Homo sapiens: one gene and its partners. The protein of the gene in region 3 purifies or fractionates together with the protein of the main gene of each other region. This does not show direct contact. Each region holds a gene or a part of one and is shown on either strand. Other genes may lie near its edges.

Region 1 (3,655 bases), about 88 Mb from region 3:
GAGCCCGGCATGCCAGGACCCATGCCCTCAACTCTGGACTCCGCTGCTTCTGAGAAATTCTTTGACCTAATCTAGGTCCACCGTCCAGCACCTACCAGATGTGGGACCATCGGAGCCCTCCTCAAAGGAGACACCCCAGATCCATATTGACCCCACCTGTCCTGTCTCCAGTCCCCAAGCCTCTTTCTCAAAGACGATCTGTTCACCTCAGTTCCTGGGCAGGCCTGGGCAGCCGGGCTAATTCCCTTATTCCAACCCATAGCTCCAGCTGTGTGACCTGTCCTGGGTTGAGGGTGAGGTGTGACCAGCCGGCCGGGAAGCTGGAGGATGGGCAGTTATCCTCCTGTGGGTGGAGGAGACGGTGGCAAAAAGGCTACCACCTGGGGCCCTGTGGCCTGAGTGAGTCCAGACCCTGTCCAGGAACTACTCCACTCCCCACACTTCTCATTTCAGACAACATTTGCTGAGGCAGACAGGCAAGGTTTTGCATTTTGCTTTTAAACTTGTATTGCACTAACCTAACTCTTTTACAGATAACAATAACTGTATGAGGCAAGTTGCCATTACCCTACTCAACAGATAAAGAAACTGATGCTCACAGAATGCCCAAGCTGGTAAGTAACAGAGCTGAAATTTGAAGTGTCCGTGCTCTTAATGCTAAGCTAAACCAGGGACAGGCAGGGTAGGTCACACAGGCCAAGTCCCTCTCCAATGATCATGGTTCACACACCTCTTCTGAGAACTCTATTTCTTTCCCTCAGTCAAGACAGAGCCTCTTCCTCTCTTCTCTTCCTGCTGACCTAGCAGCCTTTGTACCAGCAGCCCTTGCTGTCTCCCAGAATCCTCCACCCTTCAGCAGAATTCCCAGGTGAATTCCCCACCTAGGCCCCACCTCCAACAGTTACTCCTCCCCAAGCCAGGGCCCCACCTTACATGCTGCTCCTTCAAACTCTACCCAAGGCAGACTATGTCCCCAAGTGTAAGCCCATTCTAAAGCCCAAGTCCACTTCGAGCCCCGCCCTCATCCCAGACTAGAGCCTCCTCTAGCCACACCCCCACGCCATGTCCATTAGCCCCGGCCCCTGACTCCACCCCCAGCCACGTCCCATCCCAGACTCTACCCGCAGGCGAGCGGCCTCTAGCCACACCTCCACACCATGTCAATCAGCCCCAGTCCGGGACTTCGCCCCAGCCACGCCCCCTCTCAGACTCCAATGCGAACGGCCTCTAGCTGCACTCCCCATGCTGTGTCAATCCCCCAGTCCGGGACTCCACCCCCTCAGCCACGCCCCTTCTGCCAGACTCCACCCCCACGCCGTGTCCATCAGTCTATCAGCCTCAGCCCGGGATTCCGCCCTAGCCACGTCCCTGCTCCCCGGCCAGTTAGACCTGGGGCCCTTCACCTTGAAAGACTCAAAGAAGCCGCCGCCCCCACTGCCATTCTCCATCTTGTCCTCGTCGCCGCCCAAGCCCATCATGGACTGGCTGTGGATGTGTAGTTCCTCATAGAGCGTCTCCAGGAGGGCGGCCCGCGTCCGCTCCTGTGGGCCAGGCCCGGGCCGTCAGGAGGGACCCCAAGGATCAGCCCTTCGGCCCACAGTTCAAATCCTGGCCACCTTCTGAGGCACGGGCCACCTTCTCTGAATGAGTGGGGAGTGGGGAGGGCGGAGGGCTCCTGCACCGCCTTCCCCCAGGCCACTCCACAGCTCAAGCATCCCCCAGGGACCCTCATATGAAGGGCCCCTCAAAGCCCCTTCAAGATCTGGCTTCATGTCCCCACCCCCCAGGTCCACCCCCCCACCTGACAGGTCCCAAGGTGTCCCTGTCAGCCTAACCGCCTCCCAGCATCTCCTGGGAACTCCTCAGTATCCCTCCGGCTTCCTCTCCCCGACCTCCTACTCGTCCATCAATCCATCCAGCCCCAGGTGTCCCCGCTAAGGCCAAGGTCTGAACATGGCTTTTCCCTTCCCAGGGACAGGGCTGAAGTTATAGGTTGGAAGGTGAGAAGAGGGTCACCCAGCCCTCACAGCCCATCCTCACCTCCAGTTTGGCAAACTTCTCTGCCTTGTAGCAGGCATATTCAGCATTGATCAGCTTTGTCAGCAAAAATTCCTGGAACTCAGGCCCCTGGAAACTCCCAGTGTGGAGGAGATAAGGAAGGGAAGTTGAGATGACACATAAACAAGGGTCGGAACCCCAACGAGGCAGAGGCTGCAGCTCCTGAACCATGCTCTGCTGGGGCCTGGGGTCACCCTCTTCACTCCCAAAAGGGTATCTCCCTGGGCTCAGCTCCCCAGGTACCTTCAAGGGGCCCCAGTGCCCTTCATGGCTGCCCACGCCTTCGGGAGAGCAAACTCCACAGATGTTAGGGTCTGGGTTGGGGTCTCAACCTACTGCTTCAGTCTAGGGTAGCAGAACACGCTACGTACAGAGCTGAAGCCCAGGCTTGAAGTGTGCCCCTCCCCAAACATTTTAGAAGAAAGAAAGAGACTGGAACTGTCAGAAAGAGAACAGAAATGAGGAGAGGCCAGTCTACTATGGAAAGTGTAAAACAATCGTGTAGTTTATCCTGTGACCTTGTGAAAAAAAAAAAAAAGGTGTTTTCAAGATGAATGGAAAAGCCAGGCCCCGGTTGCAGTTAGGGGAGCCCAGCTGCCCTGGCATACAATGAGACTTTGGGACCTCATAAGGCAGAATGTGTATGCACCCCCCAGGCCCCCACCCATTTGTCCTGCTCTGCCCATGACTGGGGGGGTGCCCCTCACCTTCCTGAACACAGCGGGGTCCGGGAGGGGGGGTCCAAAGAAGGGCACATCATCTCTTGCAGTGACAGAGACCTGGAAGGGAGGGCAGCTGTCTGTTCCTGTGGAGCCTGGGGTCTGCTCTGCCCCACCCAGCCAGAAACCCCTACTGTGCCTCCCTGGACTGCCCCTTGGTCGGGGAGACCCAGTGACTGTGGGCTGGATGAATCTTTCTTCCAGAGATTTCTGCCCTCTATCTTTTGCCCTGAATTTTAGTGGTGGAGATGGGTAGGGGCCTTAGGAATCATCGGGATGGTGAAGGCAGAGGAGGCTACGGGAGGTGGAGGACAGTGATACCAGGCCAGGAGGCAGAGGAGGGAAACTGTCCTCTCTGAGGGGGTGAGCTTTGGGGACGACAGGGGGCGTGGTGTGAACAGTGCACCATTGAAGCCTTCCATGGTCCCCCCATTATAGCTGGAAAAAGTGAGGCTCAGAGGGGCATCCCAGGGAGGGCAGAGCTGCAGCCAGGGCCCTTGCTGATGCCCCTGGGAGGCTCCAAGAGCGCCCACCTTGTAGAGGGGGCCATCAGGGCCCCCGCCCTCAGCCTGCACCACGACGTAGGCATGCAGGAAGTTGGACGCGATCATGTCGGGCACGAAAGGAGTGTTCTCATCCTGGAAGACCACAGCCACGATGTCGTTCCCGATGTGCCGCTTCCGCTGCAACTGAGCACAAAGCCACGGGCCTTCGTGGTCTGGCCAGAGGGGGCCCATGGGGGAGAGGGGTGCCCACGGGGGTTTAGGAGGGTTTGGGGTAGTCAGAGGGCACATCTAAGGATTTGCTTTCCCCAAAATAATGTAGCAAAAAAACTTGTCTTAAAACTATTTTAGTTGAAAAATGGCCTGTTTGGAACA
Region 2 (3,034 bases), about 25 Mb from region 3:
GGGGGAAAAAAAGCCCTTTGAAAACAGGTGTCATGTGCACAAAAATGCACATGAAGAAGTAATTCACTTTCATATTTAACAGTTTATTATAATATCCTTTGTTTCTGGTACTATTCATTTAATTCTTCATGGTAGTTTTTGGAAGTTTCATATTTTTATGGTTTATTAATGATTGTTTTTTTAACCTCAGTTCTTGTATTCACTTTACAGTGGTTTATTTTCATTTGAATAAAATACTGGGCAGCTGTTAATAGTTTTACTTCATAGGAATCTACAGATAAGTGTTTAAATGAATTGCTCAAGTTTAAAAATATGGCTGGGGGTAAGAACCCAGAAGGTAAAATAATGTCTATTAATCCCAGCAGTATAAGAAAACAGCTTTGTGGATATTAAGATTTGCAGCAGTTTGGGCTAGGAGAATAATAATTGGGCATCAAAGCATTGCTTCTCAAGCTTGAATATATGCAAATCACTTTGTTAAAATGCAAATTCTAATTCAGAAGGTCTGAGGTGAGTCCCTAGAACTTGCATTTCTTACAACTGCCCACCTACACTGATGCTGACAGTACTGGACCTACACTGAGTGGCATGAATGTAAAGAATCTACATTGGAGTTATGTATATAAATACAGTTTTATCACTGGAGTGCAGTGGCGCAGTCTCGGCTCACTGCAACCTCTGCCTCCAAGGTTCAAGTGCTCCTGCCTCAGCTTCCTGAGTAGCTGGGATTACAGGTGCACACCACCACGCCCGGCTACTTTTTGTATTTTTGGTAGAGACAGCGTTTCTCGAACGCCTGACCTCAGGTGATCTGCCCACCTCAGCCTCCCAAAATGCTGAGATTACAGGCGTGAGCCACCGTGCCCGGCCCTGTATTTCCTTTTAAGAGGAAATTTTACTATTTTTTTTGAGATTCCAGCTTTTGAAATTTTTCCTCTTTTACACAAAACAAAATAGAATAACACAGGATTAAAAACTGTTAATCAGTAGAACATGTATGCACAAAAAAATGCAGATAAGACGACAGGCTTATTGACAGTATTCGCCGTTTTTCATTCTGCCTTTTTTAAATGAATTTATTTCATTAAATACTCTTTGTAAACAAGATATTTAATGGTTGTACTAAACTATGATGGAATTATACTTCACTGAATATTTAAGTTTCCAAAATTTGAGGTTACAGTGAGGTGAAGATTTTGGTGAACATCTATATATACTTAGTACCTCTATTAAGTTTCTAGAAGTAAAAAGGAGTGAACGTTTAACATTTTTACAACGTTGTACTTGATATCCCCTGCCAATATAATACTTTGGCCTTCCACTAGAAACATGAGAATGTTTTTTCCTTGAGTCCTAACAAACCTTAGTCTTTTCTGTCACTATTTTAGGTGAGATTAAACATTTTTCACAGCATTCTGTTTATGCCTTTTCAACATTTTTGTCACAGACTATCTCAGATTAACACTTTTGTACCTTTCCATATCAATAACTAATCCTAAAGTTAGTATGCTCATGTTTTAATTTTTTAGTACACTGTTTTTCAATTTAATGTTTTCATTTTTTAAATCTTTTAGTTTATACTCTATTAAACTGAAATATTATGGTTTGAAAACATAACTTATTTTTTAAGGCATAACTTATAATAGCTTTGTATTCCATCATATGTAGAAACCTTCGTTTATCCATTCTCCTACGGAGTTATATTTAGGCTGTTTCAGTTCTTTGCTGTTAAAATACTAATACAGTCAGTATCCTTGTACATGTTTCTCTATGTCTGGGTTTATCTAGGTAACTAGAAGTGTGGTTGCATCCTTTACTTCACTAGATACTGCCAAACTGCCCTGCTAAATATAGTCTTGCTCATTTTTCTAAGGATGTTTGGATTTTTGATTTAAGAGAGTTTTATTAACCTTTTTTATTATATACAGAATGTATTTTGGCAGTAATCTTAGCAAGTTAATCTGTAAGTCTGTTTATAAAACAGGAATGACTTATACATCAGAGTGGTTGTGAAAATTAAGGGAAAGATTTTACTGTTACTGGACCATAGGCATTTCCCATCCTGCTTCTTTTAAGTTATTCATGAAAAAAATTAAAAACTATGTTCTTTGATACTTTACCCTAACTCACCTTTTTTTTTTTTTCCCCATCTTAGGTTTCCCAAACCACTCCTTATGATCCAGTGAATATTCAAGAGAGCTACATTTGAAGCCTGTACAAAAGCTTATCCCTGTAACACATGTGCCATAATATACAAACTTCTACTTTCGTCAGTCCTTAACATCTACCTCTCTGAATTTTCATGAATTTCTATTTCACAAGGGTAATTGTTTTATATACACTGGCAGCAGCATACAATAAAACTTAGTATGAAACTTTTATTTTGCATTATTATTGGTATTAAATACATGGTATATTAATCTGTTCTGAACACCTGAAGGGGTTAAGTTTGTACAGTTTTTTCCACCTACTCTTCTCACATGACTTTATGCCATACATCTGGCAAGACTGCTAGGGAATTAAAGGTAAACTGTGAACCTTTATTCTTTTAAGGTCAGGAGGAGGCTGTTAAGTTCTACGGGTTTCCATCCATGAGTTACTTATAGGGTTAACTTTGTTTCAGTGCCTGAATGGAGTACTACAGCACCATGTAATGAGGTAAAAAAGAGCTCCCCACAACGTGGGCACAAAAAACCAAAAACCTCAAAATCAGGAAGCAAAGATTAGCTTCAGTAATTTGCAACTTTGCTTTAAACCCTGGTAGATCATTTTGCTTTAAATTTTTTACCCTTCTGAAGGCTTAAGAGAATGTTAAAACATCCAGAAACCTGGCCTCCATTTAAGCTATTAAAACTGTGCCAGACACTGGGAATCCAAGGTTAATCTGGTATAAAAATCAAGGGTTAGCCAATATTTACCAACCATTTTATTCCTCTCATGTGTTCTATGCAAATAGGAAAGTTAATCTGAATCTTGATTCCAACTTAATTATTCACAGTTACCCAAAAACAAGAGAACTAAGTTTAAGGAAACC
Region 3 (3,655 bases):
GACTGACACTCAACTTTATCTTATTGGTGTTTGACTTATTTCCGTGAATGCCATTTAGTGCTGCAAAACTTGTTGGTTTGTCTTTTTCATTAACTTAATCCACTTTTACTATTTGCTACTGACCTATCATCCTTTATTTCTTTTTCAGAACCGAATGCATGAAAGCATGAAACTGTTTGACAGCATTTGTAATAACAAATGGTTTACAGAAACTTCAATCATTCTCTTCCTTAACAAGAAAGACCTTTTTGAGGAAAAAATAAAGAGGAGTCCGTTAACTATCTGTTATCCAGAATACACAGGTAAGGGGTTATGAAAGATTTTATTGGAGGTACACATCTTACTTAGATCAACACTTTGGTGGCATTCATAAAACTGCCTTTTTTTTTTTAATGATTGATTGGGAGAGTATTCAGTGGTAGTGGCATTGGCATTAAGCCTGTGATTAAAAGCCCCTAAGTCAAGAGTGCCATATCAGACACAATTGAGTTTTCTGTGTTTATTTTAAATTTCTATCTTCATTTTTTGAGGAAAATACAAAAGGAGAAAAAGTAAATTTGGGAGCTGGGCATGGTGGCTATAATTCTAGCTACTTGGAAGCTTGAGGCAGGAGGATCATTTGAGCCCAAGAGTTTGAGATCAGTCTAGGCAACATAGTGACACCCCCCTGCCTCACAAAAAATAAAGTAAAATTTGGTATATGTTGAAGAAAATACAAGGGTAAATTTTAATCATTGTGCCCAAGAGACTGACATGTAGTTGCAGAGAGACATAAATAATTTTATTATAGTGTTTAATTGCACATAAATAATTTTATTATAGTGTAAAATATGCATTAATAGAAGTGGAATAGAAGTGGTTACTTCTGATGGGGTCACTGTAGTCTTTTTCTAGAGCTACTAAGAGGATGAAATAGAAATCATCAGGCAGACGGGAATAAAAGCATTTTAGAAAAGAGGAATTGCATATATGAGAATATGGAGGTAGGAAAATGGTATGACCAGTTGTGGAACCCAGAAGGAATTTGGTATTACTAGAGTTTACAGTGGCAGGGAAGAAGTGGTTGGAGAGATGGTCAGAGATCAACTCATGGAGGGCCTTATATCTCATGCTGAGACGATGATCAGTTAAAGGTTTAATATCCTACCATGATCCATATCATGGGGTGCATGATATAGAAGAAACTGTGCTTGAGAAAGATTATGCAATAAATAATAAAGATAGATAGTAGGGGATTTGAATTAGTAAGAACTCAGGATGGAAATAAAAACTTTTGATGGGGATTAAGGGATATATCATAGAACCCAAGGGCAAGAATGGACAGGTCTTAGAATGGAATTAGAACTAGGAAATAATTGTCAGGAACCCTGGAAGCACTCTTTATCCCCATCTTTTTTCTCTCCTCTCTGTGTATCTTTTTTATTATTCTTTCTTTCCTAACCAGCTTTCTCTGCTATTCAGTTTATGTGATAACAGCCTAGTCACAGTTTCTGTATCTCTGGTAAAAAGATCAGACTAGGCTGGGCGCGGTGGCTCACGCCTGTAATCCCAGCACTTTGGGAGGCCGAGGCGGGTGAATCATGAGGTTAGGAGATCGAGACCATCCTGGCTAACACAGTGAAACCCCGTCTCCACTAAAAATACAAAAAAAATTAGTTGGGCTTGGTGGCAGGCACCTGTAGTCCCAGCTACTCGGGAGGCTGAGGCAGGAGAATGGCATGAACCCGGGAGGCAGAGCTTGCAGTGAGCCGAGATCGCGCCACTGCACTCCAGCCTGGGCGACTGAGCAAAAAAAAAAAAAAGATCAGACTAGACTGGGATTGCTTGGCCTTGGTTTCAAATTCCAAGGAGAGAGATTCTGGCCGTGGTTAAGTCAGGCAGAAATCTGTAGGCCAATCAGTTGAGGTCAGGGGCACAAATGTAACTGCCAGGGATGGATCACTATGAAACTTATAGATCAGAATCAGGTATTTCCAGAGAAGGGGAACTCTTATTAGCAGAGACACTGTAAATGCTTTCTATAATAAAGTGAGGCTGGGTGCAGTGGCTCATGCCTGTAATCCCAGCACTTTGGGAGGCCGTGGCAGGTGGATCATGAGGTCAAGAGATCGAGACCATCCTGACCAATGTGGTGAAACCCTGTCTCTACTAAAAATAGAAAAATTAGCTGGGCATGGTGGTGTGCGCCTGTAATCCCAGCTACTCGGGAGGCTGAGGCAGGAGAATCGCTTGAACCCGGGAGGCGGAGGTTGCGGTGAGCCGAGATCGCACCACTGCACTCCAGCCTGGTGACAGAGTGAGACTCCATCAATCAATCAATCAATCAATCAATCAATAAAGTGAAGGGGTAAAGCAGGGGTAAGGAAGTGGGAAGAGTCAGAGGTACTCCCAGGTTTCTGTCTTGGATGCTGGTGCTGTGACCTGAATTCATGTATAGGAATGTTGATTTTTAATTATTCATAGAACGTTGAAATAATATCTCATGGACAGTTATATTCGAGGTTGAGGAGAGGTTGGGGTTTGAGATCATCAGTAGTGAAAACATGGAAATGGGTGAAATGACCTATGGAGATAATATTATAGAATGAGGAGAAAAAGGACCACAGGTAGAACGAGAGAGAATAGCAGCCTCTATTGGCAGGAGAGGAAGAAAGATATCATAACCAAAAGGAGAGGTTAAAAAGTGAGTTGATTAAATATTTCAGTCAACAGTGTTATCTGCAGATAAGTAAGATACATACTGAAAAAGAGCCTTTGGAGTTAACAGTTAGGAGGTCGTTGACCTGCTGTTGAGAGCAGTGTCAGTGGAAAGTTGAGTACAGTGAGTTACAGAATGGAAAGTGAAGAAAGAAGACAAGTGTAGACTACTCTTGAGCAACGTGGGTTTAAAGGGAAGGGAGAGATTTAAGAATGTTTATAGGCTGAGGGCTAAGATCCTATAAGCAAAAGAGATACATTAAAAAACAGATGTAATTGAAGGAGCAAGATTTGCAAGCAGGTGGGAAAAAAGGAATTAAGAGTCTAGGTAGGATAAATGGATAAACAAATTGTGTTATATACATACAATGAATATTACTTACCCAAGAAAAGGAATAATAATAGATGGTACAACTTGTATGAAACTCAAAACACTGTGCTAAGTAAAAGAGGCCAATACTTCTATTATATGATATATCCAAAATAGGGCAATTTCTGTCCATAGAGACAGAAAGAATATTAGTGGTTATGAGAAGTGGGAGAATGGGAAGAAAAGGGAGTGATTACTTAATGGGAATAGGGTGTTGAAAAAGTTTTGTCACTAGAGAGAGGTGGTGATTGCATAACATTGTGAATACACTAAGTGCCACAGAATTGTACACTTTAAAATGGTTAAATATCTGTTATGTTAATTTTCCTCAATAATTTTTTTAAAAGAGTATAGGTAGAGCAATTGATTTTTGAGCAAGAAGTAAGACACCTCTAAGACCAGAAGTACAAATAAGTGCAGATATGTAACATTTTGAGTGAGGTGGTAGGCCAAAAAGTTGAGATGTAGTTTAATCCTCATGGCCTCTGTTTTATCAAGGAAGTTGGAAATGTGGTTACCTGTTCAGAGTAAAGAACAGAGGGAGGTGAGAATAAGGTGAGTTTATAGAAAGCAACCAAGTTTTAGGAT

Evidence for each region.
Region 1: the proteins of GNAI3 (region 3) and RAP1GAP purify together in Homo sapiens (affinity purification with mass spectrometry; 4 studies listed by BioGRID and IntAct, with this or other methods). This does not show direct contact.
Region 2: the proteins of GNAI3 (region 3) and GNG5 purify together in Homo sapiens (affinity purification with mass spectrometry; 4 studies listed by BioGRID and IntAct, with this or other methods). This does not show direct contact.

Annotation. Positions count from the first base shown.
Region 1 is NC_000001.11:21,606,810-21,610,464, forward strand, and holds part of RAP1GAP (rap1 GTPase-activating protein 1), read right to left. Parts: intron 3,467-3,655; coding exon 3,311-3,466; intron 2,838-3,310; coding exon 2,766-2,837; intron 2,497-2,765; exon of another isoform or gene 2,302-2,496; intron 2,128-2,301; coding exon 2,041-2,127; intron 1,542-2,040; coding exon 1,404-1,541; intron 1-1,403. UniProt on the Homo sapiens protein: GTPase activator for the nuclear Ras-related regulatory protein RAP-1A (KREV-1), converting it to the putatively inactive GDP-bound state.
Region 2 is NC_000001.11:84,497,670-84,500,703, reverse strand, and holds the end of GNG5 (guanine nucleotide-binding protein G(I)/G(S)/G(O) subunit gamma-5), read left to right. Parts: intron 1-2,155; 3' UTR 2,156-2,379; downstream 2,380-3,034. UniProt on the Homo sapiens protein: Guanine nucleotide-binding proteins (G proteins) are involved as a modulator or transducer in various transmembrane signaling systems.
Region 3 is NC_000001.11:109,586,581-109,590,235, forward strand, and holds part of GNAI3 (guanine nucleotide-binding protein G(i) subunit alpha-3), read left to right. Parts: intron 1-148; coding exon 149-302; intron 303-3,655. UniProt on the Homo sapiens protein: Heterotrimeric guanine nucleotide-binding proteins (G proteins) function as transducers downstream of G protein-coupled receptors (GPCRs) in numerous signaling cascades.